2 separate regions of the Homo sapiens genome follow, and region 2 is linked to region 1. The links come from fine-mapping of genetic effects on plasma protein levels. Region 1 holds a variant in brackets. A gene starts in the other region. All regions are shown on their reverse strands.

Evidence for each region. PIP is the posterior inclusion probability: the model's chance that the variant is causal. The UK Biobank Pharma Proteomics Project read protein levels with antibody pairs (Olink). The fine-mapping took linkage between variants from a reference panel, not from the people measured, so its PIPs are less certain.
Region 2: it holds the start of SCGB3A2, and the variant in region 1 is fine-mapped to the plasma level of the SCGB3A2 protein (UK Biobank, PIP above 0.99).

What each region holds. Positions count from the first base shown.
Region 1 is chr1:117,572,955-117,575,868 of GRCh38, reverse strand. No RefSeq gene overlaps it. Among named protein-coding and RNA genes, the nearest start is that of TENT5C-DT, 31 kb to the left of the region's middle. The variant C/T (reference allele first, on the strand shown) is at 1,312.
Region 2 is chr5:147,877,284-147,880,197 of GRCh38, reverse strand. SCGB3A2 (secretoglobin family 3A member 2) reads right to left here and starts at 1,487. Exons shown (of 3, transcript NM_054023.5): 1 at 1,340-1,487. The coding sequence starts at 1,394.

The sequences.
Region 1 (2,914 bases):
CAAGCTTCCCAGGCTGGGCACAGATGCCCTCCCTGGTGGTTAATCTCCCATGCAGGGCCTGGGCGTAGCCCAGCTCTCCCCAACAGGGGCTCCACCCACCCCCACCCTGCCTTGACCGGGTCCCTGGGGGATGCAGGTCCTCAAAGAGGGCAAAGCTTACTGGCTGCCATGAAGCTGGGAAGGGGGAGGATGGGATGGCACTACCTTCCCCAGAATGCCAGCTTCCAGCTCACTCTCTTATTGGTGATTTCCACCCTGCTCTGCGCTCCTGACCTCACATCCCTGGATTGTCAGAACACAGCCTGCCCTGTGTCCAGACAGGAGGAGAGTGCACATCGAGGGCACTGGGAATGCTCTTCCAAACTCTCGTCCAGCTGTCTGCCCATATTTCCGCTAGAGTCTTCCTCTATATCAAGGGTCCCCATGTGGGGTGACCATGACTCCATTTCCAGTGGCCTGTGGCTGCAAGGCTCACGTGCTTGCAAGTGTGTGTGTGTGTGTGTATCTCTGTGTGTGTGTGTGTGTGTGTACAGAGAGACCTCTGACCTGGGTATCAGGCTACTCAGGTTTCTTGGCAGTCACCCCCAAGGCCCCAGTATCTCTGTGGGAGTCTAGGGAAGGGGGAAGCCTCTCTAAGGCCTTGCTGGTGGAAGCCTGGAAGAAAAGGAAATCTTTTCCTTCCTAGGCACAAATCAGAAGCTAGGTGAGAAAATGGAAAACTGCCTTCATTCCCATCCTACCCCTTACCTTTACCCTCCCCCAGGTTCCCAGCCCTAGCGAGCAGATGCAAGCCCCTGGGCAGATGGCTTGGGGGCAGGTTCTCAAGGTCTAAGAACCTGGGAATGGCCTGAGGCCTCCCTACGGCAGGCTCAGAGAAGTCCCCCCAGTACATGGACTAGTTTATATTTATTTATGTCAGTGTTTCCCAAATTTATTATCTCTAGGATGCTTTTTGATGTTTAGCACCTATTAGCCTAGGGCACTAGCTGCCACAGAACTCACAAGCAATCATTGTGCCAGAAAAATTTCCAACCTAGAAATGTCCTGTGTAGGGGATTCTCATTTCCCCACTTGGGGTCAAATGATCAAGGGCTTTGCATGCATACCTGCAGGGCTCTCACAGAATCAAAGTGCTTTTTTAAAGAGGTGTTTTTGGCTGTGCATCTGTAAAGCAGCTTTTGTGTTCCCTTATTCAACAAATATTTATTGAGCTCTTTTATTACCTTTCCCTTTGTTAAATAATTGCTTCCTATGTACTTTTCAGCTGGGTCCACAGGAAGCAAGCATTTCCCAGCAGGACCAATACATTCC[C/T]GAGCCTTGGGTCCTGGTCCCTTTACTTACTGTCCCCTTCACAAAGTTGGAGGAAAGTTCCAAATAAGTTGCCTTGGCCAAACACAGGGCCCAGCAAGACAAAGGCCCAGGCTGGTGAGAGTTGGGTGTGTGTGGGAAGGGAGGACAGACAGGCGGGAAAGCTGCAGGAGAAGGAGGATGGGGCTTAAGAGGCAGCCGAGGGAGCACCCTGTGATAGGAGGCCTGTGAGGAGGGAGGCAATCCTGCGGGGCATGGTGGGCCTGGCCATGACAGGAAACTCCACAGGGGCCCCGAAGGCTGATGGAGCTGGGTCCTAGCAAAGGCTGAGGGAGGAGAGGAGGGTGAATGGTTCTTTCTCTCTACTGGGCAGGGAGCTCCCAAGCTCAGTTCAGGTGTGAGCACCCTCCCGAGCAGAGGGCTAAGGAAGCAGAGGTGGTCAGGGAGGAACGGTGGAAGGGAAGGGTCCATGGGACATGACAGATACCAGTGGCTGCAGCGGCAGCAGGTGTTGAGGGTCCAAGCTGAGCCACACAGCAGCCACCAGCCTACAGAGGCTCCCAGAACCCCTTGCTGGTGACATCAGGCCTAAGCACCCTTTTACGTGGAATTGATAATGCCTGGCAGAGGTGGGCCTAACACAGTTCTCAAAAGATGAATCACCCAGGAACTGGTTGGAAATGCAGATTCCTGGGTACTACCTCAGACCTACTGAATTAGAAATCCAGGGGTGGGGCCCAGGCATCTGTGTTTTTCCAAGACCTCCAGGGGATTCCCGTGCACACTCAAGTTTAAAAACGACGAAACTGATGGAATCCCTGACATGACAACCCCTGCCCTAGCATCCTACCGAGGTCTGGGATCAGGGCAGGCTGAGGCCGTAAGGCTGGGCCTCTGAGAGCCAGACTGAGCAGAACTCAAGGCCACGGGAAGCTGGAGTAGTTTGCCTCTGTGAGTCACGCCCTCCCTGAAGGGAAACCCCACAGATGAAAGGAAGCTGTCCTGCTGGGTTTTGCAGCCTGGCTTCTTGGACCTGGATGGTGGAAGCAGTGCCTCATCCCCTCCACAGACCCACAGGCCCACAGCTGGCTGGGGCCTGGGGCAAAGCCGCACGCAGGGACATCCTTCCTAACTCCAGAAAATGGAATGCCTTATTCAAATGTCTGACAGTCCTACAGCACCTGCCACCATTCATTCATCTAACATTTGTCCCCTACCAACCATGCATCAATTAGTGTTAGACCCTGGATACACCACAGGTAATGAAGCAGTAGGGCCCCAGCTCTCATAGTGTAGTGTGGACTAGTGAAAAAAATGGTGCTGAGCTCTTTATTTATTTGTTTAGAGTCCGGGTCTCGCTCTGTCACCCAGGCTGGAGTGCAGTGGCAAGAAAAAGGCTTACTGTAGCCTCAACTTCCTGGGCTCAAGGGATCCTCCCGCCTCAGTCTCCCAAGTAGTTGGGACCACAGGCATGTGCCACCACATCTGGCTAATACACATATATTTTGTAGAGATGAGGTCTCACCATGTTGCCCAGGTTGGTCTTGAACCCCTGAACTCAAGTGATCGTCTCACCTCAGCCTCCCGAAGTGCTGGGGTTACAGGT
Region 2 (2,914 bases), not on the chromosome of region 1:
CAAAAACATGTGCAGATATATAAATGCACACATGCATGTGAGCACACACGTAAGAACACACATCCTCCTACTGGCTAAGACCTGCCATAGTTTATTTTCCTTTGGAAACCTATTATTTCCCCATTCAAATTATTAAAATGGAGCCTGTATATATTTTTTTAAATTTTCAATCACCTATTGTCCCTCCAAAATTCTCACCCAGAGGGGGCGGTATTTATTTTCCCCACCTCCTTTCTGCTGCCACTTTGCCCATAGATACCTGTCCCTGGACATTAGAGAACAGTGAAATATCCAAAACTGGTGAAGTTACAAATTCCTTCAGAAATTCAATAAACATCAAAAGCCAAAGTTGCCATTGTAGGTGTGGGCGGCAATCAATTTTTCATTATTAATCTCCATACTTCTTATTTCAGACATTTTGGTAAATATCTTCTCTGTATGTGTTTACAGCTTCCTGGGAGAAGATCTTCAAAGCCTTCTGTTCTCTCAATGAGCAGTGGCTATCATGAAATCTCTTTTTCCCATGTGCCCACACTGTCTTCCTGATAGTTACAATGATTCCTTCCAAAAAAATAAATCAGTTCCCATTCTCCTCCAAGAAGCCAGCTTCTATACCCTTACCTGAAAATTAAACTAATCACCCACCAATACACTAAAAGAGTTCTATCTGGATATCTCACAGTACGTTTACAGTAGTCTAGAATTATAGTAACTTAGGCAGAAGCCCTATCTATCCTACCAGAGTAGCACCTTAAGAACAATATTTATGACTGCTTCATGTCTAAATCTTCCAATGCCTATCCAGTGCCCAACAAATTGTAGCCATTCAATAAATATCCATTGAGTGGATAAACAGATGAATGTAGCTATCTCAGGAGAACCAAGCTAGCAAATTGGATAACTGGAGATGATAGCAAGAATGACTCCATATAGTTCAAAAGCACAAAAGAAATTATAAAGTCAAATTTTAACTCAAAATTGAGGAAAATAAGAAAAACGAATGGTGACCAATATCCAGCAGTGAAATGTGCTTTGTTGACCCTCCGTGGAAGTTGGCTAACTTCCTATGTAGGATGTATTAGAATACTTATATTGGGCTAGAGCTTAGATGGTGGGGATCTGAAATACTTTCCAACATCACCATTTTCTGTGATTCCAAAACTTCTTCCAACCCTGCAAATATGTGCAATTATTATGTGTCAGTTAAAAGTAAAATAAAAAAAAATACAATTCCTACCACCATATTCCACTGTCAGTGAGGCAAGGCTTACTAGTTGTGCTCTTATTAACAGAAAAGTAAAGAAATGTCACATATTCCAGATGTATTCCAGTTACTTACCAGAGTAACTACAAAGGCTGATGGTCACCAGCAGGAAGATAGTTACCAGCTTCATGACAGTTATCTGGGATATTTTTCAGGAGTTTAAAAATCAGAAAAATCTAGCAAAATCCACCAAGCCAGTGGTTCCACTTGCCATACAAAGTGTGATGGCTGCTTTTGCACACACATATTTATATGCCCATTGAGGACCTGAATTCTAGTCCCTACCACTTGACTCACCCCACCAAAGAAAGGGATAAATGTTATGTTTTCTCACCAAACAATTTGGAGGGTTTTCCACTTCCCCGTGTGTTCCCATGAGAAACAAAGCTCTACAGTACAGCATTCTCAAGTACCTCTTGCATAAACCCTTGCACAGAAATAAAAGCAGAAGGCAAAGAGCCCAACGAATCCTTCTCCTGGAAGAACATTGAAAAGAAGTGAAGAATTTATATTTGGATTAGAAGGAGTGTTTTCCTCTGGTTTTCTACATTTTTCCCCAGTTTTCTAATCATTTAAAGTTTGGAGAATCACATTAGCTGATGAACTACCCAGTTGTGAAAGCAATCTGGAGGCCACTCTGGTATAATACAGAGTCAGCTTCATGACATTTAGTGCCACATTTCTCTGGAATTCACCTGCCCCCAGCCCACTCACACATCTACTATGGTAAGATTTTCACACCTCTGTTACCTTTTCCAGTGTCAGTTACTTTGAGTATGTTCAGAGCATGTCTTCTCTGAGCCTTTGGATAGAATAATAGGCTTAAGATCTAAAATCAGAGTGTCTTTTGAAAAACCTGGGATTCAATTTTCACTGTTTGTGTAATCTTGGATTTGACATTTTTAATCTAGGATATTGGTCCTCTCATCTAAAATGGGAACATAAATAACACAACCAACCATAAGGTGTGTAGCTTGGGGAAAAAATTGTTTTTGCAAGATTCTTTGGCAATCAAATCCGATAAAATCATTCAAAAATACGTAATTGTAAGGTACTGGCTACAGGAGTAGTAATTTGTTTCCAAGGCTGTCTTTCTGGATCCAGGGTTCAGCCACAGGACCTCAGGACAACTTCATTTGTGAGCAGAAGTCCTGGAGTTCTTTGGGGCATCGAGTGGGCCCGACATGCAAGGAAGAGGGTAAGAAAGAACCATGAAGGGGTGAAATAGAAAGCGGAGTCCATATGGGCACAGGACCAGCTCAGGGCTCCCCGGCCACGTGGTACTGCTGGCTCCAGCCATTCCCACCACCAAAGTGGAACCCAGAAAATTTTGAGAAAACACACCTTAAGATGTAAGGCCAGAGGTTGGGGCTTTATTTGTCCTCATCTGAGGGTGTGGTATTGTAATGAAGATCTAATAAAATTATGCAGACAGAGCATTCTGCTATGCCAAACCAAAATTAATATCTAATTTATGTCACATTTTACTAATTTTTATGTTACCATGTTGTAACTGTCATTTCTTTATCTTTCTGCTACTTTATAAACTACTTTATAAACTACATGAAAGACACCATGAATGCCTGCCATGCACCTCAATCCTGCCACTTCTCCTTCTTTCTCTACCAGTACTGCTTCCATTTCTCCCAC